Homo sapiens: one gene and its partners. The protein of the gene in region 6 interacts with the protein of the main gene of each other region in a biochemical or structural test. Each region holds a gene or a part of one and is shown on either strand. Other genes may lie near its edges. The genes, in order: EZH2, PARP1, AFP, BMAL1, MAPK8, SIRT1 and RICTOR.

The links.
Region 1: of the proteins of SIRT1 (region 6) and EZH2, one has a biochemical effect on the other in vitro, tested with the Homo sapiens proteins (one study listed by BioGRID).
Region 2: the proteins of SIRT1 (region 6) and PARP1 form a complex in vitro, tested with the Homo sapiens proteins (one study listed by BioGRID).
Region 3: the proteins of SIRT1 (region 6) and AFP form a complex in vitro, tested with the Homo sapiens proteins (one study listed by BioGRID).
Region 4: of the proteins of SIRT1 (region 6) and BMAL1, one has a biochemical effect on the other in vitro, tested with the Homo sapiens proteins (one study listed by BioGRID).
Region 5: of the proteins of SIRT1 (region 6) and MAPK8, one has a biochemical effect on the other in vitro, tested with the Homo sapiens proteins (one study listed by BioGRID).
Region 7: of the proteins of SIRT1 (region 6) and RICTOR, one has a biochemical effect on the other in vitro, tested with the Homo sapiens proteins (one study listed by BioGRID).

Annotation. Positions count from the first base shown.
Region 1 is NC_000007.14:148,810,976-148,815,312, forward strand, and holds part of EZH2 (histone-lysine N-methyltransferase EZH2), read right to left. Parts: intron 4,065-4,337; coding exon 3,939-4,064; intron 3,163-3,938; coding exon 2,984-3,162; intron 746-2,983; coding exon 650-745; intron 1-649. UniProt on the Homo sapiens protein: Polycomb group (PcG) protein. Catalytic subunit of the PRC2/EED-EZH2 complex, which methylates 'Lys-9' (H3K9me) and 'Lys-27' (H3K27me) of histone H3, leading to transcriptional repression of the affected target gene.
Region 2 is NC_000001.11:226,401,193-226,405,529, forward strand, and holds part of PARP1 (poly [ADP-ribose] polymerase 1), read right to left. Parts: intron 1,188-4,337; coding exon 1,022-1,187; intron 1-1,021. UniProt on the Homo sapiens protein: Poly-ADP-ribosyltransferase that mediates poly-ADP-ribosylation of proteins and plays a key role in DNA repair.
Region 3 is NC_000004.12:73,449,387-73,453,723, reverse strand, and holds part of AFP (alpha-fetoprotein isoform 1 precursor), read right to left. Parts: coding exon 4,257-4,337; intron 3,689-4,256; coding exon 3,591-3,688; intron 3,110-3,590; coding exon 2,971-3,109; intron 1,324-2,970; coding exon 1,100-1,323; intron 1-1,099. UniProt on the Homo sapiens protein: Binds copper, nickel, and fatty acids as well as, and bilirubin less well than, serum albumin. Only a small percentage (less than 2%) of the human AFP shows estrogen-binding properties.
Region 4 is NC_000011.10:13,378,426-13,382,762, reverse strand, and holds part of BMAL1 (basic helix-loop-helix ARNT-like protein 1), read right to left. Parts: coding exon 4,318-4,337; intron 1,603-4,317; coding exon 1,509-1,602; intron 1-1,508. UniProt on the Homo sapiens protein: Transcriptional activator which forms a core component of the circadian clock.
Region 5 is NC_000010.11:48,424,749-48,429,085, reverse strand, and holds part of MAPK8 (mitogen-activated protein kinase 8), read right to left. Parts: intron 3,199-4,337; coding exon 3,016-3,198; intron 2,707-3,015; coding exon 2,582-2,706; intron 2,007-2,581; coding exon 1,943-2,006; intron 1-1,942. UniProt on the Homo sapiens protein: Serine/threonine-protein kinase involved in various processes such as cell proliferation, differentiation, migration, transformation and programmed cell death.
Region 6 is NC_000010.11:67,887,656-67,891,155, reverse strand, and holds part of SIRT1 (NAD-dependent protein deacetylase sirtuin-1), read right to left. Parts: intron 2,275-3,500; coding exon 2,033-2,274; intron 1-2,032. UniProt on the Homo sapiens protein: NAD-dependent protein deacetylase that links transcriptional regulation directly to intracellular energetics and participates in the coordination of several separated cellular functions such as cell cycle, response to DNA damage, metabolism, apoptosis and autophagy.
Region 7 is NC_000005.10:38,951,862-38,956,198, forward strand, and holds part of RICTOR (rapamycin-insensitive companion of mTOR), read right to left. Parts: intron 3,844-4,337; coding exon 3,734-3,843; intron 3,001-3,733; coding exon 2,913-3,000; intron 1,693-2,912; coding exon 1,600-1,692; intron 1,231-1,599; coding exon 1,124-1,230; intron 565-1,123; coding exon 335-564; intron 1-334. UniProt on the Homo sapiens protein: Component of the mechanistic target of rapamycin complex 2 (mTORC2), which transduces signals from growth factors to pathways involved in proliferation, cytoskeletal organization, lipogenesis and anabolic output.

The DNA of each region.
Region 1 (4,337 bases), on a different chromosome or scaffold from region 6:
TGTCGACAATTTAAAAGGTGAATAACTAATGACGTTGTTGTTTCTAGGTCCTTATCAACTAGGTTGTGGATTAAGCAGGCCACTCTATGGTAAAGCTCTTGTTCTCCCTGTTGTCCCTAGACGAGAAAAACTAAATGTGGCTAGAACCAAGCAATCCTGTTTTGTTTTGCTTTTTTTCCCCTCTGAGACAGGGTCTCACTTTGTCGCCCAGGCCGGAGTGCAGTGGCACAAACATGGCTCACTGCAGCCTCAACCTCCCAGGCTCTTCCAGGCTCAAGCGATCTTCCTGCCTCAGCTCCCAAGTAGCTGGGACTACAAGTATGCACCACCACGCCCGGCTAATTTTTGCATTTTTTGTAGCAATGGGGTCTTGCCATGTTGCCCATGCTGGTCTCCAACTCCTGAGCTCAAGCAATCCACCTGCCTCGGCCTCCCAAAGTGCTGGGATTGCAGGAGTCGGCCACCGCGCCCAGCACAATCCAGTTACTAAGCATGCAAATCCACAAACATGCAGAAGTCCAGGCTGAAAAGGCAGTTTATGGCAATTCATTTCCAATCAAACCCACAGACTTACCTAATAAAATCAATCTAAAATAAAGTAAAGTTAGTATATACAATGCCACCTGAATACAGGTTATCAGTGCCTTACCTCTCCACAGTATTCTGAGATGAATTCATTTTTCTGCACAGGATCTTTGATAAAAATCCCCCAGCCTGCCACGTCAGATGGTGCCAGCAATAGATGCTAGAGAATAAAACACAATCACATCATCAAAAAAGGAGGGTGAAAATGGACTGGGGACAAAGTAGACTACAGAATGAAAACAAAAGCTATCACTGTAAATCCTCAGACCTGTTTGTTCTAAGGCAGTAATTGGGCACACAGCTTCAGTCAACGTGAAAGCTGCTGAGAATGGCTATGAACATTATGTTTTCCTTATACAGCAGATAAGAATCTCTGTCTTACAGAAAACCTTTTGGTGGTGTTGGTCCTCTGCAATGACCATCGTTCAGCAAGGTGCTCTAGGCCTGCTGCACTTTTGGCTTCCCTGTATCTTCAGCCCTTGATTTCCTCGAGTAATTCACTTTCAACCTGAATTTAATATAAGGACACCACCAAATCACTCTTCCTCTCCATACCTTTCCCTCTACTTTCCCCAAGTGATTCTATTAATAGTTATTCCATTTTCAGCCCCAGGACACCCCCTGATTCTTCACTGGCGTTGGTTCCCTCTGAAGCCCATAGCAGCTTGGCTTTGGATTTGTTCTTCCACCCCACCTCCTCAGGATAACACAAGAAACTACCGGGAGGTGTTATCATGATCTTGTCAGTCCAGTAGTCTATTTTCAGCAGAAATGCCAAGATGATCATTGCTATAAATTATGTATTTAGGGATGTGTTCCCCAACATATGCCAATTTTTCATCACGGCTCAGTATTATGCTTTCATCCAAAATTTTCTTGTGACCTTTACAAAGGCTTCCTATCTATTCCTATTCTGGACCATCTTACCACTCACCTGTCATGTGAACTTCCCAAATAGCCTTCTGATCAGAAACTAAATTAGCTAAATACTGCTATGCAAATGAAACCCAACTGGTAAAAGGTATCTACATAGTTTAACATTTTTAAGAGTTAAAAAATGTCTTACAAAGAGGACATGTCAGTATGAATAGAATTGCCCACTTTCTGAACAAAGTGAGGAAGGAGTACAATGGTAAGTTGTTTGGGGGGGAAATTGAGATTTTTAGGTCTGAGCAGGTATGCCATCGGAAACGGAACCAGAGTCACTGTGATCCAATGACCTAAATGGACATATAACTGCCTAGAGTAAAATCATCTAAATGTCTAACAGAAAAGAAAAAAGTCAAAGCTAAAAACAAAAAGCCCACCACCCTGCACAACTCTCTGCCATAAACACAGACTTTGGTTCAAAGACACAAACAAAACCAAGAGAACTTCAATGTTTTGCCTGGAGCAGAATTTCTGGTAGAAGGGGACTTGCTGGTAAGAAGTGTGTTCTCAATTATAAATAAATGGTCCAACAACAAAGATATGTCTACTCTACACCCCACATACACACACACACACACACACACACACACACACAGAGCATAAGAGCAGGTTAATGGGAGCCTGGAGGATTTGATCTCCTGCTCCTTTACAAGTCTTGTGACTTTGGGTTTCCTTACCCGTAAAATGGGGGTTAACACTTACTCCTCACTCACAGGGTTAGGAGAATCAATGAACAAATCCACTAAAGCACTCACAACAGTGCCTATTTTTACATGCTTAATAAATGTCAGCTATTATTATAAAAAGAACTGACTGAAGAAAGAACTTATCATCTGCCCTAAAAAAAAAAAAAAGATACGAAATTTCCCAAATACATGCTGCTGAAGTGTCTTTTGCTCAATCATTACTTCCTGGCTGATAGAGTTAACTCACCTACATACAATTCCCCAGACTAAAAATATATAGTTCCTAGCTGGGTTTTTTTCAAGGTTATTAAACAAACAGGAAGTAAGTCTATAAAAACCTGCCATGGGAAATTTCATCTTTTACTCTACATAGCAAGGAATCTATAAATACTCTTTGATGAGAATGAGTCTATATTTTGATAGAAATCACCATTTATTTGCATTAAGGATACTAGATAAACTATTAACTAAAAGACAAATTCAAATAATCTATTAAACAGGTAGAAAAAATACCTCTTATTCCTAAATCTGATACCATGAATGGCTACTTCTCAGAATTTGCTGGTTTCTCCTACTATCAGAGTATGGTGCTCTATATAAAACTGAAGAGACTGCCCAAGGGTGCATTACCCAGAGAAAATTATGAACACTTTCTCATCAGTTGCACCTTTCAAGGATCACTTTTACTTTTTGCCCCAGCTAAATCATCTAAGGCAATCCTGACATTTGCATCACTAAATAGCTAACTACAAACAATCTTCCAGAAGTGACTTGTTGCTCACCTTTTTGGAGCCCCGCTGAATACTGCAGTTCTTGCAGGACACATTTTTACTGTCCCAATGGTCAGCGGCTCCACAAGTAAGACAGAGGTCAGGGTCACACTCTCGGACAGCCAGGTAGCACGGGCACTGCTTGGTGTTGCACTGTGCTTTGCAGCGGCATCCCGGAAAGCGGTTTTGACCTTCAGAGAGAGGTTTGGAGGTTCTTCACTCATCACCGTATGCAAAAACTTGCAGAAAGATACGTGGCAAGGGCTGTACTGGGCATCTCACTGACTCTCAACCCTCACAACCACCTTATTACCCTACTATATAGACAAGGAAATGGAAGTATTAACAGCGAAGTTATAGCTGTTTGCACTGAAAAAGACCACCACTGAGTTGTTTTTCCATTTTTCATTTGTTAAATAGTGTATATATTTAAAGTCGGTGTGAATAAAGGGTCTGGATGGAACAATATCCATGGTCCTTGACCATTCCAATAGCCCCTAGTTCTAAACACTCCCTTAATACCCAAGCTTCATGTGCAGTCTCATTAAACAATTATAAAAATCTACTATGTTTATGCTACATTCCTTTAATCTGAAGACTAAAACCCTCCTAACTCTGACGATTTCTGGTGCCCAAAAATTATTTGGGTAGCTCCTTCTAGATTCCTCTTACAATCTGTGCCAACTTTAATACAACTTAATTTAAATGATCAAAGAAGAAAAAAATAAAATTCAGGTTCCTTTAATACAACTTTGCCTGCCTCACACACACAGACACACAACACCCAGGCGACTGACTGGCCACTGGCACAGGGCCAGGTATGGGGCTCAATAAATACTTGTCAAATTGATGAGTTTCGTCAAGTAAACAAGGGAGTGCTCCCATGTTCTTATTTTTGATTTTTTAAATTGCTAACCAAAGACCTATTTAGTTCTCATGCAATTGCATCAAAGCAACAAATACTTACACTCTGAACTACATTGACAAAACTTTTCACAAAAATTTTGTGCTATCACACAAGGGCACGAACTGTCACAAGGCTGCCGTGGATGATCACAGGGTTGATAGTTGTAAACATGGTTAGAGGAGCCGTCTGAGTAAAGATAACATCATGCAGGCCAATGAATCCAGGGAGATGGAAACGATCATACACAATTAACACGAGTACATTCTTCCCTACTACCTGTGGAGTGTAGCTGGCCTGCCTTTACTGAATGCATAACATTACACATATTCCGGTTTCCACAACGATGGCAAAAAATACTCTCCCACCCCCAAGTGCTTATGAGTTCCATCTAAAGCACGGCTACATCTCAGTCCCATCCCAAAGCACTTCTCCTTCAACTGACTCGGACTCACACCTTCC
Region 2 (4,337 bases), on a different chromosome or scaffold from region 6:
GATGCAGGGCAGGCCAGCCCTAAATTGGGGATTGGCCTGGGCGGGTCCTTGGCTTCGCTCTGGAAAGCATTTAAGAGCGAGCTCGTGGTAGAAGAAAGCAGCTTTATTGAGGCAGCAGTGTTATGGCTCTGTGACTGCTCCTGCAGAGCAGGGCTACCCCACAGGCACTGTGCTGAGAGCAGCAGCTCAAAGGCAGTTCTGAAGTCATATTTACACCCACTTTTAATTATATGCAAATTAAGGGGCAGACTATGCAGACATGTTAAGAAACGGGGTGGTAACTTTTAGGTCATCAGATTGTTGTCACAGAAAGGGGTGGTAACTTCCGGGTATTGCCATGGCAATGGTAAACTGATATGGCACACTGGTGGGTGTTTTATGGAAAGCTGCTTCGTCCCTGTCCCTGCTTTAGTTAGTCCTCGGTTTGGTTTGGTGTCTGAGCCCCACCTCCTACCTCATTCCCCTCTCAGAGATGAGCTATTCTTCCTTAATCTTAAGGGGGCTGCAGAAGGGTGCAGGTCTGAAACTACTCTGTATGATACTATAATGGCAGATGCATGTCATCATACATTTGTCCAAACCCATAGAATGTAGAGCATCAGGAGTTTCTGGACTCTGGGCAATAATGATGTGTCAGTGTAGGTTCCTCAATTATAACAAATGTACTACTCTGGTGGGAGGTGTTGACAAGGAAGAGCCTGTGTGGTGGGAGGGGGAGGGGGTACTGGAAACTCTTTGTTCTTTGCTTACTTTTGCCATGAACAAAAATAAAGTATATTAAAAACAAAACAACTTTAAAGGCTACATTCCAAGCACCTGGAAAAACAAAATACCAAATATCATGCAACAGATGATGCTGAGTCCAGGAGGTGTTGCTGAAATAACATGGGCACCATACGCTTGATCTGCACATGTGGGAGAGGGCAAGCTGGGGGAGGTTTGCTTTGCTCTCTGAGACGAGGCCCTCCTGGGAGCTTCAGGGTGGGGGCTGAATGCCCATGCTGCCCCAGTATGTACACACCTGTCACTCCTCCAGCTTCCGCTGTCTTCTTGACTTTCTGCTGGTCATCCCACCGAAGCTCAGAGAACCCATCCACCTCAACGTCAGGGTGCCGGATGGAGTGGCCCACCTTCCAGAAGCAGGAGAAGTGGTACCAGTGTGGGACTTTTCCATCAAACATGGGCGACTAGAAGGAAGAGAAACAGAGGGAAGTAAGTAAGCAGTTAACTTTTGACTTAGACCCACTAGACCTTGACCTTGACCTCGACCCCAGTCCCAGCCCCAGCAGTGGGATAGCACATGAAACTTTTGTTCTCCTATCTGTGAAAGGAGGACAGCCTCCGCTCTCACATGAAGAGCTGCAGCATCCTTCTCACGATCTTCCCCAAGGGTCAGAAGACTGTAGCCCACTGTTCTTGAGCTCATTCTCTTAGGACACCAAACACAGCCACGAGAAAGGTGGCCTTTTACCACTGAGCTCTGCCCCACGTCCCTTTTGACCACACACTGCTACATTTAGTGGTGAGCTGCCTCATGGCCTAGTGAAATGCACAGAAGACACTTGTGCAGAGTCACAATCCTGCAGCATCTGCTGGGAATGGCCAGACAACTGCTCCAGGCTTGCCTGGACTCAAAGGGCCTGTGTGCCCCAGAAAAGGGCTCTTTAAGTGCCTCTGCAGTTAAGAATAACAAGGAACAAGTCCCAGATAATGAGCAAAGCAGAGAAAGTGTGTCAGAAAAAAGTGTCAAGCTTGCAGCAGCCACACAGATGGGAGTGGAATGAATGGAGGTCTTTGAGGCAACTGTGACAGCGGATGGTTCGGGGCAGCATGCCTAGAGCTGGAGTCAGCTGCTCACTGGCCTTCTGGGGCGCAGTTTCCCAGGCGTAGGACCTGAGAAGTCTGGCCACAGGGAACACAGTTCCCCTCTCCAGGTGGTTTGCTTCCCACTAGGCCTTTCATTGTGACAGGGTCAGGTTCTGCTCCCAGGCCTCGAGCACTGTCTGGCTTTGTTTTTGAGACCGAGTCTTGCACTGAGTGCAGTGGTGCGATCTCAGCTCACTGCAACCTCTGTCTCCTGGGTTCAAGCGATTCTCCTGCCTCGGCCTCCTGAGTAGCTGGGACTACAGGCACGTGCCACCCATGCCTGGCTAATTTTTGTATTGTTAGTAGCAATGGGGCTTCACCATGTTGGCCAGGCTGGTCTCGAACTTCTGACCTCGTGACCCGCCCGCCTCGGCTTCCCGAAGTGCTGGGATTACAGGCATGAACCACTGCACCCAGTCCTGGCTTTACAGAGTGGACGGTGACAGCGATTGGGAAGAAGGGGAAGACACAGTATGTAGTGTGTGTCCCTGCTCCTTTCATAAGCCATCCTGTGTAATCCCACAATCTGCCTCTGGGTGGGAACCAGCCCTTTCATTCACAGATGGAGACAGTGGGGCTGGAAATCCTTGCCTGGGGGGTTGGGAGTCACAGAGGCAGCAAATGAATGATTTGACACTATGATTCCTCCCACCACACTCCACTGCCCGGCAGGAAGAGCTACTTAAAAATACACCAACTGTGATCTGACTAAAGTAAGGGAAGTCCCAAACATCTGCTTTTATAGAACATAAAGCTAAATGTCACACAGATGCAATAAGACTATTAAAACAGCATTAAAAGTAAATGTGCTGAATTTTTAGGATGGAGTTGCGGGGACAGGGAAAATACTCTGGAAAAGCAATGATAAGGTACCCCACTATCTCTCTCCACTGTGAGTGGCCTCTTTCTGGATGTGATGTATTAAAATGCACAGCTAAGACTATGGCAGCACAAGGACTCCTCAACATCAGCTTTCCCCTGGGTCTGGAATGCTCTCCAGCCCTGTTCAGAGCACTCCCTCAGATCTCCCAATGCTCCTTCCACAGCTCCCCTCACTAAGAACTATGCATTTGGTGATTATTTCATAAGGGCCTATCTTGCTATTCTCTAGCAACATGTCACAGAGGGCACGCAGTGTTTGCTTAGGGCTCCAAGTCAGATGGAACAAAAAAGGAAGGATGGGGAAATTCCTGCTGTAGAAGAGACAACAAATGGCATTTCTGAGAGCATACTCATGTTCCAACTCTCAAACGTTCCACCAGATCTCAATTAGGCTGCTGATACAGATCCCTAAGCATCTGGCTATCATGGAATATTTGCAATGGCCTCGACCTGGCTCTGCCTGCTTGTCTACCCCTTGTCTACCCTTCCTGTGCAATGTTCCAGTTACCCTTGTATAAAGAGCACAGGTAATGGCTATGGCACTTCTTCCTGGCTCTGCCAGGGGCCCCAGACCTGCTGCCCTTTGGTCTGGGTGCTGTCTCCCCCAACCACCGGCACAGTGCTGGACACCCTGGAGGTGCTGCCCAATGGTGCAATCACAGCACAAGCTTAGAGGACAAGAGCCTCAGCAGAAGCACCCCTGACCAAAGCAATGCTTTGCCCTAAACTCAGGACTGAGAATGATGTGGCAGAAAGGCACCAAACCAAGGTCACAAGACTATCGACTCCATTTGTTAGCTGCACAGCTGAGGCAAGGCACAGAATCTTTGGCTGTGCACCCAAGCAAAAACTGAGCACCTAACATACCAGGGTCCTCACCCAACCAGCAGCTGGTGAACTGGGTTCCCTTCTGTGCAGAACAGGCCATGCTACCTGTCCACCTAGGCCACAGAGAGAATGAACTGACCTCACTGCATGCCTCCGGGTGCTCAAACCCTCCCAGGACAGAGCAACTCAAAGGTCTACCGCCATCCTCCTCCCACCAAAATGCTGGAGGGCCCAGCTCATCCCTCCCAAGATGCCCCAGGCATGAGGGCTAAAGTGTCAGGTATCAGATACTCAGAGAACAATACTCCCATGTAAATGTAAAAGAAGGTATTTAAATTCAAGCAAGTGAAAAGGCTTCTTTCTTTTTGGCCTTCACCAGCTCAGTCTACCAGACCAACTTTAAATTCTGAATTAAAACTCTGAATCCACCCTTAATCACCATTACATAAAAATCACAGTTACTTTTAATAATAAAGAGTTTCTTTCACTATCAAGTATACCAAAGGAAAGCCCAGAATGTTGTTATTACTATTTTTTTTTTCAGACAGGGTCTGGGTCTGGGTCTGGGTCTGTCGCCCAGGCTGGAGTGCAGTGGCACTATCTCAGCTCACTGCAACCTCCACCTCCCAGGCTCAAGCAATCTTCCAGCTTCAGCCTCCGGAGTAGCTGGGACTTAACAGGCACGCACCACCACGACCCGCTAATCATTGCATTTTTTTGTAGAGACAGGTTTCACCATGTTGGCCAGGCTGGTCTCAAAC
Region 3 (4,337 bases), on a different chromosome or scaffold from region 6:
TGCAATGCTATTTTTCTACAGCCTTCCTAGTAGAGAATTTTCAGAGCCTAAACCCTTACTCCATCAACCTATCACCAGACTGACCACACACACCTTGTCTAGTACTTTCAGTAGAAAGATTGAGGCTGAAAGCATGCCAAGTGTTCCACCAGCCTGGAGTTGTGCAGGTTGTGGATAAAACACTATTTCATACTTGACCATACTTATGTGTAGTGGAAGGCAATCTCCCCTCATCCCCCAGGAATATCCTTTCCTGTCCGCTCTTCTTAACTGTGTCTTATCTACACTCAAAGACCCAGATCTCCGAATCCTGCCCATCCAGTTATCACACCCCTTATCTGGGCACTGGCAGCACTAATTGCCTGCACTGCTCACTTAGCAAGCCTTTCATGTTGGACTTAGACCAGAGCAATAGAAAGTAGACCAGAGCAATAGAAAAAGCTTGCCAGAACAGGCAACATTCTTATCATACTGTGAAACATACCTCAGACTGTGATAGAGGAAAAAAGAGAAGAATGGGTTTTCCAATGAAGGAAGACTATTTACAAAACAAGTGAGGATTAAAATGCATGGGAGTTTGAAGAACATAAGCTCCATTGACTTGCATGACCATCACCATTACAAAAGAGCTCCCACAATGAACTGAAATGTACATGTCATTTCTTAACACCCAAACTGCATGGTTGAATTAAATAAGATGGTTATTCTCTTCAAAGTGTAAATAGTGTAAAAAAAGATTCAATGATGTGTTTCCTGTGCTTGGAATGGAAGTACCCAAATTTGCTGCAAAGATACACTCTAATTCCTCAGAATAGATTGCCCACTTTTCCTCAACCCCCAAATACATATCACAATAACAGTTACAACAGAGATTATTTTTACAAACAGGAAATTGTCCACCCTCGTCAATTTTTCTAGACCTGCTTCCCCAATGAGACTGTGAAGACACTGAGACAAAACTATTTTCAAAGGCATTTTAAGTGTTTTGGGAGTAACGCTCTGTTAGTGAGCCCAATAGTGTTAGGTGAGCGAGGTAGAAGTCTCAGTTACTCTTTGGGGTTGTCATTCTTTTCCATGCTAGCAAGTAACAGTTTCTTACTCTTGCTTCATTGTTTGCAGCGCTACACCCTGAGCTTGGCACAGATCCTTATGGAAAATGAACTTGTCATCAGAGAATGCAGGAGGGACATATGTTTCATCCACCACCAAGCTGCTGAAGCATGGCCTCCTGTTGGCATATGAAGAAGTGCAGCACTGGCCAACACCAGGGTTTACTGGAGTCATTTCATGTCTGATACATAAGTGTCCGATAATAATGTCAGCCTGGTTAGGAGAATGAGAAAAAAAAGTAAGGAGATTGGGCATTAGTCACAAAGTTGGTTCAGTTTTTCAGAAAACTGCTGCAATAATTTCTAATGCCCAGCAATTTATAATTAATATTACAGGAAAATTTGCTATGTAGGATCATGTGACATTATATTGTAAATTCCAGGATTTACCCATTTGTTTGGGCTAAGCCTTAGCAAGTAGTAGCAGATGGTCCATATGTGATGTTGAGGATAGTCATTTAGCTATTTGTGTCAGCTATTTGAAACATGCTTCCAGTTACATACACACTTCTAAAGGACAAAAATGTCTCTGCCTTTATGTTTCCCATGTGTATTTAGTTGAACTTTCCATTTTTCTTTTGATAATCACTATCTGAAGGTAAGAATAGCACAAACTTACCCCTTTTATTCACATACATATACACATGTATACACTTGCAGCTAATATATCATCCTAATTGAAAAGAAGTAAGAGCAATTTTGTGGGTTTTTAAGACTTTCCTAATGTAGAATCTTGCTACCTTGCCTACTTAGGAGATATTTCTTAATCACCTAGTAATAACTTGTAATAAGAAATAATATGTTTTGTGTGCACTTTATCTGTCAGACTAGTGCTGTGTGAGTTATGCAGATTATCTTGTTTAAAACAGCTGTCGTATGAGGGTGGTATAATTTGTATTCTCAAATGTCAGATGAAAAAACTCAAGCTTAATGACATAAGTTGCTTTCCCACTGTGATACAACTAAAGAATAGTGAAAGTAGAATGCGGTTGTTGGCTGGTGGCCTCCGGAACATACACTCCTGAACCATTACACCATCCTGCATCCCTGCAGCCTCCCAGCATGGGAAATTCAACAAACAATTGAGGTGACATTTAATCACAAGAACTCTCCTTTTACTCTTAACCTTTGGGGAAAAAATGTATGACATGAAGACTAACAGCAAATAACTCCCCATTATGAAAAAGAGGAAAAAGGATAAAATAGACAATTTTGTTTGCAATTATGACTTTATAGGAAAAATATTTTTAATTCATCCTGTAATCTTATGTATGATACTAGTGACATTAGGAAGTAAAGAATATTGGCATTACTGACTCGAAAGTCATTTTACTATTCAGAACATAATACTTATCCTGTGCTGTACCCTATACCCTGCGAAAGGGAACCAATTATTCCTGATGTCATAATAATAATATCATGTTACAAAAGGTGAAAATATAAATATGGCTAAAATAGCATGACTAATTTTAATCAATCAAAGATAAAGCTTTTTTAAAACATCAAAGTAAGTATATGAACAAAAAGCAGAAATTATGATTTGAAGTTATGAATTATGAATTGTTATGAATTATGAGTTACATGTTGGTCGTTCTGTCTTTCCGATATATAAAGTTGGCTCAGATATTGTTGACTAAACTGGCTGAACTTCCACCAGCCACCCTGGAGGAATAGGAAGCATGGCCACATGCCAGCCATCCAGAGCTGGGTTCTCACACCCCTCCAACCGTGACTAATCAAACAAGCCTCCTAAGGCCATCTCTACATTGGTTTTTACCGTCTTCCCTAGAGGGGAATTATGAGGCTATTTCAAGTCAAACAGGGCAGAAATGAGATGGGACCAAACCAAGCAGACACTCACCGCTCCCTCGCCACAGGCCAATAGTTTGTCCTCACTGAGTTGGCAACAAGTGGCTGCTGTGGCTGCCATTTTTCTGGTGATGGCCATCAGCTCCGACGAGGTCAGCTGGGGGGCTTTCTTTGTGTAAGCAACGAGAAACCTGAAAGAAGCATTTTTTAACTAAGTCCTGCTGAGTCATTCATGAGTTTTTAGCCGCCTTGCTTCTTCTCACAGACTCTCTACTCTCATGCCAGAAGACATGAGGTCAGCTCGTTTGTTTCATCTACATGGTATTTGAACCAACTTTTGAGATGCATTTACTCTAACAACCACTCCCTGTACTCCTATTATAGAAGCATATCACAATGAAAAAGCAAACTCCAGGAGGAAGCCTGACTTGTATTCTCAACCTCGGAGCTTCATTGATTTTAACTGTGATCTTTTGGTGCTTTAACTCGGACAGACTATGACAGAATGGATATCTTTACTGCAAAAATTTGCACAGTATGGGGAACTTAAAGTCAATACCACAGATCAGACCTCACAGGTCATTCTTGTTGCTTCCAAAGGAGGAGAATGGGGAAGGCTACATTCTCTTTAATAATTTTAATTCACTAAAAATACTGTTTACAAAAACATACGCATTTTGTAAGTAATATTCTCCTAGTTTCTGGAAGAGGCCGCAGCTTCGCTTTGCCAATGCTTGGCTCTCCTGGATGTATTTCTGTAATTCTTCTTCCTGAAAATGAAGAATTATTACATATACATTTTTCTTTTCTTGGATGCATAACTTTGTATATAAAATTGATCAATATTATATACTATTATAAAACCAATCAGAGATGTTTAAATATTAAATATGGTAAAGTGTAAATTTTGATAATTACAGAAAATGGATTTTGGGGAGATTAAGTTTAACATTTTATAAATCACAAAATCATTTAATGGCAAAACTCAATCTTTGGATAAATGGTTACAGTTCTTTCTGTACCAAATTCTTGCCTTTCTGAAGTTATCCAAAAATGAATAATGAATACTACCTTTATTTGTGGATCAAAGGACTTTTGGTTAACATTTTTATTTCTACACTTGATCTTAGCCAAAAGGCTGAGAAGCAATTAACATTTTTGTTTCTAAAGCAAGCCACTAGCTGCTGACTGCTAGTTAATAACAGCTTAATATCTAGACAAATAGATATAACTGGCTAACAACTAGTTGAAAACTAGAGGCTTTCAAACAAACAGCATTTTTAACAGATGATATCAATCCAGTTTTTCATACTCCCCTAAAATTCTAGAGCAACTTACTCCTTTATCTTGGCATTCAAGAGGGTTTTCAGTCTGGAAACACTTCTCCAATAACTCCTGGTATCCTTTAGCAACTCTTAG
Region 4 (4,337 bases), on a different chromosome or scaffold from region 6:
AGACAATGTATATGAAAGTTCTTTGAGTAATATTTAAGCCTATACTGGACTGATAACCTTTCAAAACCAAGAAGTAGAATCCTTGGTAATACCAGGAGTCAAGTCAAGTGCCTAAAAGTTAACTTAAGAAGCAGAGACTGGAAGACCACCCTAAGAAGATGGTGGATCCAATATGCAGGAAGGACCTGGAGGTATAACAGAAGAACAGCTAAGAAGACAGCTGGCAAGCAGTGTGTGTGTTGTGGGCAGGGGGGCGGGGGTCACGGGACACCAAGCTCAGACTTCATCTGTCAGTGGTATTTTGGGCCAAGCACTTTCACATATATTATCTCACAGTAGGACCTCGTGCAAAGATGCTGGCTACCCTAACCATTATTAGCTCCATTATAAAGAAAACTAGGGCTTGAAAGTTGTACAAGTTCACATAACTAGCACATGGCAAGGCCAAGCTTCGAACCCAGGTCTTACTTTGTAGTCTTACCCATTAATTTGTTAACTTTCAACCTTTTTTGGGGGGAGCAAAACGCTTTTTCAAATAGAAATGTTTGCAGAAGATTCCTGTATAAAAAAGAAGTATTGCTGCCCTTGTAGAAGCAGGATTTCTACTCTTACCCTCTCTCCTTAGCAACTATCCCCACGCCCATCCCACCTGGTAACACCACAGCTCTTGGTAACCTGAACAAACCTCCGAGGAGCTCAGTTTTGAAAATCCTTGCCCTGCTTTTGATGGTTTGTGCCCTAGGAGTCCTGCCTATGGAAATTCCTGATATTCTCTCTCTCTGTTTTAGGAGATGGGGAAAGGAAGCCATTGTGTCCAAAATGATGGCCTTTAAACTGTCCTAAGCTCTACTGGCATCAGGCAATATAAACAGATTTATAATTTACGATTAAGATGGGCCTAGGCTTATAAGTTCTCCAGCAAAGATGAAAACAAATGACTGGTTCCTAAACCTATTTATAGTGTAGTCTTATAGCAAGCTCTTCATGAGGGCTGGTGATTGATCCACTGCTTGGATCCAATGCTGTCACACCAATGGAACCCCCAGGCAGCAGATCCCCAAGTATTCTGCAGCTATAAAGCATGGCTTGATTTCCAAAGCACTGCTGGTGGCATTGCTGTTTCCATTGCCTGCCCTAGACACTAATATTTTCTCCCTTGAAAATTCCTGGCAGAAAATGAGAAACTTTTCTATGTGAGGTACTCAATAATCTTTCCCTCATGGGAACTCTTGAATTGCTCCCTCAATTAAATGAACTGACAGTTCCCCATTCCTTATTCTTTCTCCCTTCTTCCACTCACATGGAAGAAAGCCTCTGAGGATGTCAGCAAGCCTCCCTAGCCCTACCAGTATGCTTTGTATCCAGCCTCACACAGATGCATTTACTTCAAGGAGGAAGTAGTCCAAATTGTTTCAGCAATCGCAGTTGCAATTCCATACTCCCACCCCCAACATTTCAGATCTTGGGCAAGAGGTTCTCTAGCTTAGGCTAAGAATCATCAGTCTTACCTTCTTGCCTCCTGGAGAAGAGGCATCAGGGGGAGGCGTACTCGTGATGTTCAATGGGCTGGAGCCACAGCTAGAAGGCGATGACCCTCTTATCCTGTCAGAAAAGAGAATTACACTGCCTTTTCTTTTTTCAGTGGAGTGTATGTGCTTTGTTAAGGGGTAAAGGTGAGAAAGGGGATGAAGATCTAGATTAGGGTTTGGCAAGCTTTTTCTGTAAGGGGCCAGATAGTAGGCTCTCTAGGCCATATGGTGTCTTGTCACAAATGCTCAACTCTGCCTCTGCAGCTTGAAAGCAGCCACAGATACGAATCGGTGTGGCTGTGTTCCAATAAAACTTTATTTACAAAAACAGATGACAAGCTGGATTTGTTCTACAGGCACCTGATCTAGAATGCAGTCCCTAGAGTCAAGCATCTCACTGACAAAGCCCTTGGATTGGAGTTTGCATTCAGTTGGTGAATTTCAAGTAAGTGGCCAGTTTTATTTCCTCACAGAATCCAGGTGAATTGGAGGAGAACTTCTAAGATCAACCTCCATCTTTGATCCACAGAAAACAATTTGTCCCCTTCTCCACAAACACTGTTTAGCTAGTGAATACTCTTAGGACATGGACGGCACCAGGGTCTAAAAGGTAGCCTAGTAGTAGTGACAGGAAAAGCAGCCTTCGAAGGCAGTGGTTGATGAAAAATGGGTCCAGGCCTTTCTTATCTAGCATATCTCTCAGAAGATTTATAGAAGGGAAGACTTAGAACTGTAAATCCACCTAAATACTTGTCAGGCTGAAGGACCTCAGGAAAGAATCCATCACTTGGCATTGCAGCTACAGTTTAGGGAGAGTGTGATGGCAGTTGTGTAACCACAGGACTCTCAGCTCCTACATGGATGAATGTAGCTTTTGGGTGACCCAGAGACCACTCCTCCACCACCCAGAAGTCTTTTGGTTCTTGTACTGCCTAGTTCTCTAGATTTATGAGTGAACAAGTTTTCTTTCTGGATTAGAAGCTTCTTAACGGCAGTTTACAACTACATATCATGTATTCTCAGCATGCACAAACGGCTGCTAATTGCTTACGGAAAAATTGCTGAGTGTCCCCCACCTTTCTCTACTTATGTCTATGAAACCACTATTTTCCCAGGTTTCTCATCTTGGAATTGCTGTTTCATCATTCCTGATTTCATCTTCAAACGCTAGACCTTAGATGATTGATTTCTCTTTTGGCAGTGTCATCTCTGTAGGATAAGGCCTCATTCCTGAGTTGTCAAACATGCCCACCTTCATCTCTCCCTATTCCAATGCAACTTCCACAAAGCGTAACACAAGACTTTGGATGCTTGTTCAGCATCCTACAACAAATGGGGTCTTACAGGTTTCTTCCAAACTGCACAGTATCATTTCTTGTGTTTCTTAATCGCCTATCATAGCTCTGTGTCTCCTTCCTACACAAAGCCTGCCCAGTTAGGTAGCTTGTTTCTTGACCCTGAATTTGCCACTCACATGCCCACTCAAGAATAGCCCTGGCTTTTCTAGAGGGAACATCCACTCTTATTGCAAACCCTGGCTAAGGCCAAGTTCAAATCTTTCCTCTTTTGCTTGCTTTGGCCCATGCACCCTCCCTTTTTCCTGTTATCATAAAGAAAATAGACTTATAAAAGATTTTAAAATTCTTGAGGTCAAGGACTGTTTGATACTGTTCTTGGATGGTCTCAAGCAAAATACAGGGTATGCAAATGCAAAGTATAGGGTTTGAACCTGATTACACTGCACACTACCCTCATGTCTCCTTCCTGATGCAGAAGTCACACCCACTAATCCTGTGGGGTTGGAAAAGAGCTGTGTTACCTATAGGGGGATAACAGCCCCTTTATGGCCAATTGGAAAACAGGCCAGCCTCTAATTCTCCTGAGAGAATCCAGCGGCAGCAGTGTTTTCTTCCTTTTCTTATGTTACATTAAGTTTCGTTCTGAAGAATCTGGTTACCACCTTCTCTATTCCCCAAATTTGGACAGACTTATGATAACTGCTTCCCTCTCGACTGCTCTTAAAGACAGATTTAATTAATTTTTAAGCACTCACTATATGTCAGGCTGTGTTCCTGGAACTTTCCTGAGTGCCCTCACAATCCTAACACAATTCTTGGGAAATAGTGCTTTCTTTTTATGGTTTAAATCAACAGAGAGCAAGAGGTTAAGTAAGTCTCAGCATAGCCAGGTAGAGAGACAGGCCCAGGACTCAGACCCAGGTGGACTGCTTCTAAGCTCCTTCTCTTTCATATGGAAAGGAAGTCTCTCCCAAGACAGCTAGTAATAACTAGCTGATCTGCTTGGTTTCTAGTACTAATCCTGGGCAGCTCTTTGATTGAAAAAAAGTGAATGTTTTGTTAAGGTCCAGATCACTCTGATAGTTCACAGCTCTACTCCTGCATTCCTGTAAAGTAAAGGTACATCTATCCGCACTGAGAAGCTCCTTGAGCCATAAGAAAGTTAAGTCTTCTCAAGAATTCTCTTTAGCGCTGGGCTATTTTGGTTTAGCTTCTTTATTTAAGGCAGGATTTCTTAATCTAGGCACTACTAACATTTTGGATTGGATAATTCTTTGTTGGGTGGGGAGGAGGGAACTGTCCTGTTTACTGTAGGATGTTTAACAAGCAGCATCCCTGGTCTCTATCCACAGGATGTTTAAGTAGCAACCTCCCACCCAGTTGTGAAGACCAAAAATGTCTCCTGACATTGCAAAATATTGCCTGGGGGAAAAAATTTCCCTGGGTTGAGAACCACTGGTTTAACAGAGGAACTAGAAGGTGTTACTTGCCTGTGGATTTCCATGATTTC
Region 5 (4,337 bases), about 19 Mb from region 6:
CTTTGGGAGGCTGAGGCAGGAGGATCACTTAAGCCCAGAAGTTTGAAACCAGCCTGGGCAACACAGTGAGACCCTGTCTCAAAAAAAAAAAACAAAATTAGCCAAGTGCAGTGGATCACACCTGTGATCCCAGCTACGGGGGAGGCTGAGGCAGCAGGATCACTTGAGCTCAGGAGTTTTGATGCTGCAGTGAGCCATGATCATACCACTGCACTCTAGCCTGGGGGACACAGTGAGACCCTGTCTCAAAAAAACAAACAAACAAAAAAAACAACCAAAAAAACCACAAGATTCTACAAAATACTTCATCGTCTACTGTAAATTAGTAGGATGTAAAAATATTAGGTTAATGTTTTCATACATACTCAGTACAGAGCTATATCTTTATACATATTCAAATGCACATTACATATTCAAATGCAGCAGACTCTATCCAATTTTATCATTTTGTCATTCTTCTAACTTTATCACGGGCTCTGCTAACCATGGGTTTCCCAAAGTTCAGAGAAAACCAATCTCTAAATCTCTTCAATTTCTAAGAAAGAATCAAATTCATGCTTAGCAAAATACATTTATAGATGGGTCACTTATTCATGTTTATACCTCCCCAGTCCCCTTTCCTTTCCCAGGATTTAGAGACAACTCTTAATAACAGGTCTTCTGCCTCTATTTTAAGATGAGGTAAAATGCAGGGGGCAGTGTAGGAGGGTGAGATGAAGGGGGAGTGATTTACTCAAAGTCACGCAGTTACAAAAGTGGTCAAAACACTGAAGGACAATAACACAAATGGAAGTAAACGGGACCTAAAAATTACCTGACCCACATGTCCCAGGGCACCTTTTGAAGAAATATTTGAAAACTTCCATGACTATCAAAGCATGATTAATTTCAGCCACATTCATAAAATAGAATAAAACTACATTAGATTTACAAATATTAAAAATTAACCCATTCTGTAGGCAAGGGTGAGGGCAAAGAGAGACTCCTATATAACATGGACGGAAGTGTACACTACTACCATTTCTTTGGAGAGTAATTTGGAAATAACTGAAAAATATCTTTGGCTCAGAACATCTCCTTCCAGGATTTTTCTTCCAGGCATGTTCTCATATGTGAACATGAATATTGCAGAGTTGTTTCTAACAGCAACAGACTGGACACAATTTAAATGGTCACCAAGAGGGAGATGGATATATAAAGTGTGACATATTCATACAGCAGAACACTAACCAGTTATTAAAGCAAGAGAGGCAGATACGTGAACTAAAAGAGAATAACCTTCCAGATATCTGATTATATCAACAAAGCACTCACGCCTATAATCCCAGCACTTTGGGAGGCCGAGGCGGGTGGATCACGAGGTCAGGAGATCGAGACCATCCTGGCTAACATGGTGAAACCCTGTCTCTACTAAAAATACAAAAAAATTAGCCGGGTGTGATGGCAGGCGCCTGTAGTCCCAGCTACTCAGGAGGCTGAGGCAGGAGAATGGCGTGAACCCGGGAGGCAGAGCTTGCAGTGAGCCGAGATCACACCACTGCACTCCAGCCTGGGTGACAGAGCGAGACTCCAACTCAAAAAAATATATAATAAATAAACAAAGCAAGTACATATAGCATACACCGTACACAACCATACGTGATTTTAAAAGGGTGGAAGAGGAGAGGTGGGAGACACTAAACACATTTGTGTATTCACAAACCATGGAAAAAAATATGAGACAGAGCACTAATGTGTCTGTGTCTGGGGTGGGAAACTTGGGAACTTAAGATTAAGTTAAGGAAGGAAGCAGACTTACTTTCTACTTATGTAAAAATATTAATATTACCACATTTCGGTTATGCATATTAAAGTCACAAATTTCTCTAACATGATAATAAATCACCATATAAAAACCAGAAGCTCCTTCACAGTTTTCCCTCTAAGAATCTGACGAATGTACCTTTCCACTCTTCTATTGTGTGTTCCCTTTCATCTAACTGCTTGTCAGGGATCTTTGGTGGTGGCTGAAAAACACAAGGCAATAATAACCAAGTCAGTATGCTGGGAGTATTTTAACTCTGTAGTTATTTGAAATATTAGCCACACAGATGACTTATAAAAATATATCATTAGATCAAGACTGATCAATCATCAACTTACTTATACAGACATAATAGTTTAGGAAGACTCCTTCATTGCAGGAAATAAAATGTTTAACTGTCTTTTTTCTTTTCTTCTAGCTCTTGAAATTGCCACATTTTATTTATATCACAGATCACAGAATTCTGTTTTCCTTTGGATACAGTAATTTGTTTTATACCTGAGTTAGGATGTTCCCCCAGAGCATTCAACATCCTAGTTCTCTGGTTAGGTATCCAGGCAAGATTGCAAAAAACAGTGGGAGGTAACTTTATTTTGTGTAGGAGGGGCTCGAATATGTTCATTAGTTTATTTGACGTAGTCTTCATGAAGAAACAGAAAAACATCATCATCATGTATCTACATTTTTATTTAAAATTAAAAGGTCTCCTCCAAACCTAACTGTCATTCTAACTCTAAGAATGCAATATGTTCTGTAAACATTAAGAAAATAACTTACAGCTTCTGCTTCAGAAGGATCATACCAGACATTGATGTACGGGTGTTGGAGAGCTTCATCTACAGAGATCCTTTTAGATGCATCTATTACCAGCATTTTGGATAACAAATCCCTTGCCTGACTGGCTGCAAACATAATGGTGTTAATGTACATATATTTGTAAAGATTCTCAAATTATTAATAACTTTCAGCAATTTGAGATTTTTTAAAAAGCATATGTTTTAAAAATATTACTGTAAAATTATCTTATACATATGATTAAAATATATAAGATTAAAGAAAAAAAAAACAAAAACCTCATTTTTTTCCCCACCATCCAGAGAAAACCTTGGGTTCATGTCCCATAAGAATATGAATACATATAAACACACAAACCCATACACACACACTACACACCCCAAATGGGATTAAATGTACATATTTGTAAAAAGTACCTTTAAGTTTGTTGTGTTCTGAGTCAGCTGGGAAAAGGACATCAGGGAAGAGTTTCTCAAAGCTATATCCAGCATATTTAGGTCTGTTTTCAACGTAAGTCCTTACTGTTGGTTGCAGTTTCTTCATGAATTCAGGACATGGTGTTCCAAGCTGTTCAATAACTTTATTCCACTGATCAATATCTAATATCAAGTAGCTAAGAAAAATACTCCATAACTAATGTTCAATACATTAGTCATATTCATATTACAAGAAAATAGAAATTTAAAAATTCCTAAGAAAGGATGTGGCAGTTATAAATTTTATATCTCACAGGCACCCTGCAAAAGGCAATGATTGTAGGTGGACAGAAATGATCAATAAATAAGCTTTATTAACCTTATTTATTGTGTGTTCAAACTAACTGATTTTACCTTAAAATGGAAGCTTAAACTCACAAATTCTAAATAAAATGATAAGCAACTAAGAATAATGACAATTACTATCCATAGTGGCTCTAACTGCAAACTGCACACAATGCTATAATAATATACAAAATTTTTCCTTTTCTGTCAATTTATCAGAAAACATGATTATATCTCCTAGACAATATTTCTAGAACACATCCTGTTTTACTGAGTTTTCTACACTAACAGAAAATAATCAGTTGTAATAAAAATAAAGGCTTCGATAAAAGTGGCATTTTCTTTTGCCATTCTTTGTTTAGCTTAGGTTTAAAAAAATTTTCTAAAGCTCTGACCCTTATAAAAAAGATTCAGTTTTTTGCTAAGTTGTAAGGTTAGGATTTCTTGGTCTCCTTTCCTCTAGTCTTTACACTCCAGGACCCTGAAGGCCAAGGCCTAAAACTCACTTATTGTAACCTTGTGAATATGCCTTTTCCCATTCTTCCTCCTGAAACAATTCTAAGTGTTACTAGCTGGTAAACACATAACAAATCACTGTTAATATAAATATTAAAAGTAGTGGGATGAACAAAAAGTATGAATCCAAAGCTATCGTTACCATACAAAACTACTACTGCTGAAATTCTCAGATGAAAGGGTCAGTATGTTATGTGAGTAATGAGACAACAATCAAAAGACACAAACCACACAGAACATTAACAAAAAGGAGGTAGGGGACAAAACAAAAGGATGGCCAGAAGCAACAGACAGCTCCAAAATTCATATTAAGTTGTACGTATTTCTAGACTTAAGTGTATAATTATTATAAATTTTTAATGCAAGCCATGATTTTTGATTTAGGTTAAATCAACTCAAAGCCAGCAAGTAATTGTGCATAATTACAATTGAGCAGGGTTCAGAATTAACATATGAAACAA
Region 6 (3,500 bases):
TAAGCCTTTTAAGCATTTAGCCAACAAATTAAAGCAAATGCAACTTGAGAAGAAAATAAACCATTTCAACAAATTATTTTAAGTAGGGAAGAATTTTTTCTTTTTTTTTTTGTTTTTTTTTTTTTTGAGACAGAGTCTCACACTGTCGCCCAGTCTGGAGTGCAGTGGTGCGATCTCGGCTCACTGTAAGCTCCGCCTCCTGGGTTCACACCATTCTCCTGCCTTAGCCTACTGATTAGCTGGGAATGCAGGTGCCTGCCACCGCGACCGGCTGATTTTTTGTATTTTTAGTAGAGACGGGGTGTCACCATGTTAGCCAAGATGGTCTCGATCTCCTAACCTCGTGATCCGCAGGCCTCAGCCTCCCAAAGTGCTGGGATTACAGGTGTGAGCCACCGCGCCCGGCTTTTTGTTTTTTTTCTTTTTAGACAGTTTCGCTCTGACGCCCAGGCTGGAGTGCAGTGGTGCCATCATGGCTCATTATGGCCTTAACCTTTCCGGCTCAAGCAATCCTCCCACCTCAACCTCCTTAGCAGCTGGGACTACAAGTACGCACCAGCACACCAGGCTAATTTTTTGTAGAGTCAGGGTCTATGTTGCTCAGGGTGATCTCAAACTCCAGGGCTCAAGTGATCCTCCCACTTTAGCCTCCCAAAGTGCTGGAATTACATGCATGAGCCACTCCACCAGCCAAGAATTTCTATTACAGAGAAGTAATTCCAAAGAAATTGCTCCTTTAGTTAGGATTCTATTACCTCAATACTACAACAATTCTCTATTTTCATTAAAAAAAACAATGTATAGCCAGGCACGGTGGATCACGCCTGTAATCCTGGCACTTTGGGAGGCCAAGGCAGGCGGATCACAAGGTCAGGAGTTTCAGACCAGCCTGGCCAATATGGTGAAACCCCATCTCTACTAAAAATACAAAAATTAGCCAGGTGTGGTGGTGTGCGCCTGTAATCCCAGCTACTCAGGAGGCTGAGGCAAGAGAATTGCTTGAACCCAGGAGGCAGAGGTTGCAGTGAGCCAAGATCCTGCCACTGCACTCCAGCCTAGGCAACAGAGCAAGACTCAGGCCAGGAGAGGCTGAGACTGCAGTGAGCCATGATGACACCACTGCACTCCAGCCAGGGCAACACAGCAAGACCCTGTATCCAAAAAAAAGAAAAAAAAAAAAGGTGTATAATATTTCAATTCTTCATTTCTTTGAGACGTGCCCACTAATCGTACAAAAAAATCCTGACATTTCAAATAGAGATTTCAGAAGTTATTGTTTCATCATCTTACCAGAGTTGACTCCAATTTGACCTGGAGTCAAGGTCAATTTAAGTTAAACAAACTTGTCTACATCGTTATCTGTGAGCAAAACATACTCCTGATGATCATCTAAGATTATGTAACACCCTTTCGCAACTCGAAATGGCAGAAAACAGGACAAAATTTTACTACAGCAGTTGCTCTGGTTGCTAACATGTAATATACTCTGTATAAAACACACACTATGCAATAGTCTTAGGTAACTAATTAGCTGCAACCCTAAGGTAGATCAAATAGAAAATGTCAAGTCGCCACAATCACATCATCTTAATTAATATGGAGGGAAGGTAGGAATCTGTTACTCTTCCCAACACTAAGCTTTTCACTTGTGAATACCAATTAGGTTTCCAGTTTCTCATAAAGATCTAACAAATACCCAATTTCTCCATCAGACTGACATCCCTTAACAAAAGCAGAGTTTCAATTCCCTGCATCTCCTTTAGGAGCTATGATATAATGTAGGTAGAAATCTTGCCTTAACTCCATTTACCCACTGTGCTATAAATAAGCAGAAGCAAATATTTTTTTAAGGCTGGAGAGGTTTTAAAAATCTGAACTAATTTAGCAACTGCTGCTGCACTCAGTTTTTGGCAGTTCCCAAACATCCATTATCATGTAAGGATAAATCCTTCTAAACCAGAAAAATGTTTCCTACTTGGAAAAGGCATAAGAAAATACATATACGACCTCCCCATGTACTAGTCTTACATACCCCAGCTCCAGTTAGAACTATAATTTTTTTGCACTCTTGCAGTAATTTCACAGCATCTTCAATTGTATTAATATCTTTTCTTTTTTTCCTTTTTGGTGGTTCTGAAAGGATATTAATAACAATCTGCCACAGTGTCATATCATCCAACTCAGGTGGAGGTATTGTTTCCGGCAATAAATCTTTAAGAATTGTTCGAGGATCTGTGCCAATCATAAGATGTTGCTGAACAAAAGTATATGGACCTACAATAAGGGGGAAAAGGCTTAAAGTCAACTTATCAAGTAATTCAAAATCTCATTTATTTTCTGAAGTAATGAGTTAGCATTCTGTGAGGGTTTTTTGCAAAGTAAGAAAATGCAATTTAATGGTATTTCATTCTCGGTACACTCAGAATTAATGCTATATCCCAATGAGATTAGGAAGATCTAATGAAGAGTTGGGAAGACCCCCTTCAGCTGTAAGTATATATTTCAAGAGTCTAATTAATTAACAACCAGAATTAAGTTCTTATGGTTAATATCTAGAAACACACACCATAATACCAAAAGTATTTACAAAAGGGTTCTACGACATAGAAAAATCGTACCAGTCCTAAAAGCCTGTACTACTTATCATTAAAACCACACAGGAAAAAGAAATGAAAATCTATACATAACTGCCATCTTAATTTTTTTCCGGTAATTTTTCAATTTGATCTTAACCCATCTTCCAAGATAATACATACAATGTTGATGTTCTGAGAACTAATCATTTTCTTTTACCCTGAGATTGCTCAAACCAGCTCCCTAGGCTTGAGAAAACAAAAATAAATAAATAAATAAATTACAGACACCAAAGAGAAACTGATCTTCACTATGTTTAAATAATCAAGCCATTTGTAAGAGTGAGAACACAAAAAGATCCACTTTCAAGATGGTTATACCTTTGGTATAAAAAACTGATAATGCTTTCTACATCGAAATACTTTCCCATTTCATTCACATATTTATTAAATATTTATTGAGCACAAACTATGTGCCAGGCACTTTTTTAGGCACTGAAAAGACAGGAGTATACAAGTCAGTCAAAAATTCCTGCTCCCGTAGAACTTATATTCTAGACCAGGAAACAACACAATTTAAAAAGTAAGATACAGAGCTTTTCAAGAAGTGGTAAGTGTACAATAAAGTGAAAAAACAAGGAATATGAAGTGAGGGAGGAAGATATTCTAACCGGATGAAGAACACTACACAAAAAGGGGACAAGTGAGGTGGGGCAAGGTGGCACATGCCTGTAATCCCAGCACTTTGGGAGGCCCAGGCGGACGGATCACCTGAGGTCGGGAGTTCAAGACCAGCCTGACCAACATGGAGAAACCCCGTCTCTACTAAAAATTCAAAATTAGCCGGGCGTAGTGGCATATGCATGTAATCCCAGCTGCTGGGGAGGCTGAGGCAGGAGAATCGCTTGAACCTGGAAGGCGGAGGGT
Region 7 (4,337 bases), on a different chromosome or scaffold from region 6:
AAAGATTAAATAAAGAAGGTAGACAAATAAATACTTGTTATATTTGTTTCTTTTCTGTCAAAAAAAGGAGGACTGGTTCTTCTGGCACATGGCTTATTACATAACTTTGTAGGAATCCTCAAAAGCTACTTAGAATATAAGGAGAGAGAAAAATGTAAGCTGGTGATTATACTCTTTGTTATGAAAATATACACATTCTCCAAGAGGCTATTATTGCCAAATAATTATCTTAGACAAAAGCAAATTACAAATGTAACAAATACATTTAAATTCTAAAATTCAAATATAAATGTTAACATTGGCTAACTTTATATGAACCTGTCAGGATACTCACTCGATGGCACAGATTCACTTTCACTATTATGTCTAGAGCTGGTTGACTCCGAGTTCAAACTTAGAGTGCTTGGGATAGATGAAAGTTCATTACAGAGTTGTTCCACATCATCTGGAACCACTGGCCACAGATGTTTGCGACTATGCCTCACAGCATCCCAGTTGTGACATTTTAGAATATCACAGCCTTGTTTGGTTTTAGCTATGAGCCCAAGTACATATACACAGGTCCTGTATATAAAAGATGCAGTAAAAACAGTTATAATTCCAAGCTGAGATTTCTTAAAGCCACCACAGATTAATTTGCTATACATACTTTGAACTTTCTCTAAAACCCACCAAAATGGTTGCGTTTGTGGAAAAAAAAAAACTTATTAAGACTAGTCAGGAATAAATTAGCAGCAATAAAAAACAAGCAAACCTTCCCAATAAAAATAGTAATTACAACAAAATAAAAAGAACACAATGCAACATGAGCAAAAAAGGTATATTAGCTTTTCTAGTATAAATCTGGAACAGCTGGGTTACAGGAATACTGGAGTATCTGTACAACACTATGCCTTACCTGTTACCTACAAGGTAAACTTCAATATAATAAAAATCAAATTATAGTAGTAAACAAGGAGTTCGTTTAGATGTTTAACTTAATACAGTTAATAATCTTGTATCATTAGAACTTTCAGTGGATTAACAGTTATGCATTGCACTTAATCATAAAATACTTTCCCCTAACATCCATTTGTGAATAACAACGTCTACATTAGAAAGATTTCTGAGTTAAATGACCTACCCTCTGATGGAAAGAACTTCACACTGTTTTGCAAGTTTTAGTATATCTGGAATCACGTTTTCTTCCTGTAGCAAATTGAGACCCCAATTTGATGAGCCGATATTTCCCTGAAAGAAAAGAAATCACTTACATCAAATATAAGAGTCACTCTTTCAAAAGATTTGGAAAGCTACCAAGAAACAAATTTAACCTCATCTCTGAGAGAGAAAAAATGTAAAAGCCTCCTCAAGTACAAAACATTAGGCATGAATTAATTCTAGTTGTCTTAGCAACAAAACAAAAGTCATGAAACCAATAGTTCAACCATCTATTCTTCAACATAGAGATAATACACTTATATTGGCAGGAACAATCCAGTCTTAAATATTAATCTAATAAGTAGTTCCAAAGAAAATATTTATCTATTTAGTATAAATGAAAAAAAAACTTAAAAATCTAAAAATTGCGAAGATCTTACAGAAGTGTTTATTACAAACCAAGGCCCAAAGAGATGCTTTCAGTTTTTTAATTTCTTCCCACTTATCCAAATCTGGTGTACGAACATTACGACAGAGTTCTGTAATAATATTCTGGAGAAAGAAAAAAAAATACCATGAGTAATAATATATTTATGTATTTAATATATTATTATTGCATCATAAAACCAGTATAACGTTTGTTTTTTGTCATTTTTGCATATTTAAATTCTAAATAATTTTATGTAAAATTTCTTGAGAAGCAGCATAGGGCAGGGGTTCTGAATTCACATTCTAGAATTATCACTTATTAACTGCATGGCCTTGGGCAAGTTACTTCATCTCCTCATCCTTTGATTTCCTAATATCTAGAAGAGTGATAATAACATTTGCATCATAAGGTTTCAAGATTTAATAAATTATTGCACATACAGTGCTTACCAAAGTACTTGGCACTTAGTATTACTAAATAATCATACTTATTCTTTAAAACAGAAAGTAAATTAGTGCTTAGGTTTTATCATACTATGTAAGTAGTAACACTGAGAAAATCATTTAAATTTTTAGTGAAATTTTCAAATGTTAATATGAAAATACTTGTCCCAACAGTTTTCACAGACGTAATATAAAAACACATGAAACTATAGAGTACATTTATGCAAAACTTTGTGCTCTTGAGATGAATACTGATACAATCGGGAACTAAATTGTTAAATAACTATTGTTCTGTCACAAAAACAAATATTCCTATAACTTTATTTCTAAAATAAGAGAAACGTTACATTTATTGGAAACAGTTGCATGACATATTCACAACCATAAATGCGGTGTACATATTATAACTCAAAGAACAACTGCTTGCCTATGCTTGTTAACATTCCATGAAGTACGCGAGAATAAAATGTGCTCACAACCAGCAACTTTCAATTTATTGCTCAACAAGGATAACTTAATCTGTATTAGGTTCAGTTTAATTTCCCAATGAGTGGAAGAAAAACTCGGTTTTTCAGTACGTTTTTGGAGATCTGAATTTCTCCACTAAACTCTAAAAAAAGAACTCAGATCTTCATTGGATTGCTTACTCTACATAACAAGTTAGTTATTCAAAAAGTCATACACAAGTCAGTTAATGCATTGCAAGGCCATTAATATTTCTCAGGTTAATAAATATAGAATGCCTAAGTCAATTACAAAATAGATGAATTTAAAAGCAATTACACCACTGATATTAAAGCTTTTGAGAAGTTTTTGCAAAGGTAATATTTTAGCAATGTTAAGATTTTGTTTTTTTTTTACTATTGTAGCTACTTAAAATAAGTGAATTATGTTTTTACCTGTACTTCCAACAAATGGCAGCCTGTTTTATGGTGTACTAGTTGTCCATAAAGGTGTATAGGCAGGTAGACGTGAGGACGCTGTAATCTAGTATAATAAAGATGATTACTATATCTCTTGGCTAATTTAAATATGCTAATTAGAACAAAAGAATTTTAATAAATGTTTGATAAATAAAATTAGATACAACTCTCCAGCATAAATAAAAATATGAAAGTAACAAGGAATGAGGATTTCTCAGGTAAAATATAGGCTGGGCTTCCCTAATCCAAAATGATCCAAAATCCAAAACTTTTTGAGCACTGACATGACACTGTAAGTGGAAAATTCCACACATTAGTATTTAATGCAAACTATTTCATACAGAAAATTACTTATAACACTGCATAAAATTATGTTTAGGCTACGTGTATAAGGCGTATATGAAACAGATTAATTTCATGTTTAGACTTGGGTACCATTCCCAAGGTATCTCGTTATATATATGCAAATATTCCAAATCTGAAAAAATCTGAAATGCGAAACATTTCATCATTTTGGATAAGTGATGTTCAACCTGTAACAGTTTATCAGAGCTCAAAGTACTGGTAAGAGAATCTAGGCCTAGAAATACAGACTGGGGTGCCAGCATGGAGTATATGTGAATGCGTTATCAGTAAGGATATTCAACATGCCATGAATGCCACTGAATTTTTGAGCAATTAATGCTGCGCATTAAGATTCTTCCTATATCATGTTAGAAGCAGAATATACAAAAACTCAGAAATGTTAAAAATAATTTATGATGAACTAGTTTTAAATCTGATAACTGGGTACGCACCTTTGGTTACTCCGACGAACATAGTTATCACCATCAACAGGCTTCCGGTAAGTAGTAAGTGCTTCATTGAGTTGTTCCTCAATCAAGTCAACATATTTGGAGTTGTATTCCTAGAGGATAATATTGTTTTAATTGCACATAGTATCACAATGAGTCACTAAATTTAAAATATGTCAGATACTTAGCAAAGGGTAGACAGATCAAGGTATTATGAATGCAAATGTTCTATCATATCCATAAGCTTTTGGCTCAGGTTTCAACTAGTACTATATACTAATGACCCCCATATCTGCCATTTTCCTCACAAATCTGAGCTCCAGATCCACATTTTCAAGCCATCACGTGGTTACTGCACAGACAATGCCAGTTCAACATATTGAAAATTCATTAGCCTAATCTTGAATCACTTTTTATAAATGTGATCTCTTAATAGTGATCCATTATATATTGTCATTAAATTAGAAACCTTATGAGCCAAGTTGGACCTCTTATTTACTGTATCCAATCAGCCCACAAATTCTGTCCATCTTATTTTGAAAATACCCAGAAAATGCGTCCTCATCTAATCAACCTAACTACCAGTGAAGTTCAGGCACTCATCAAT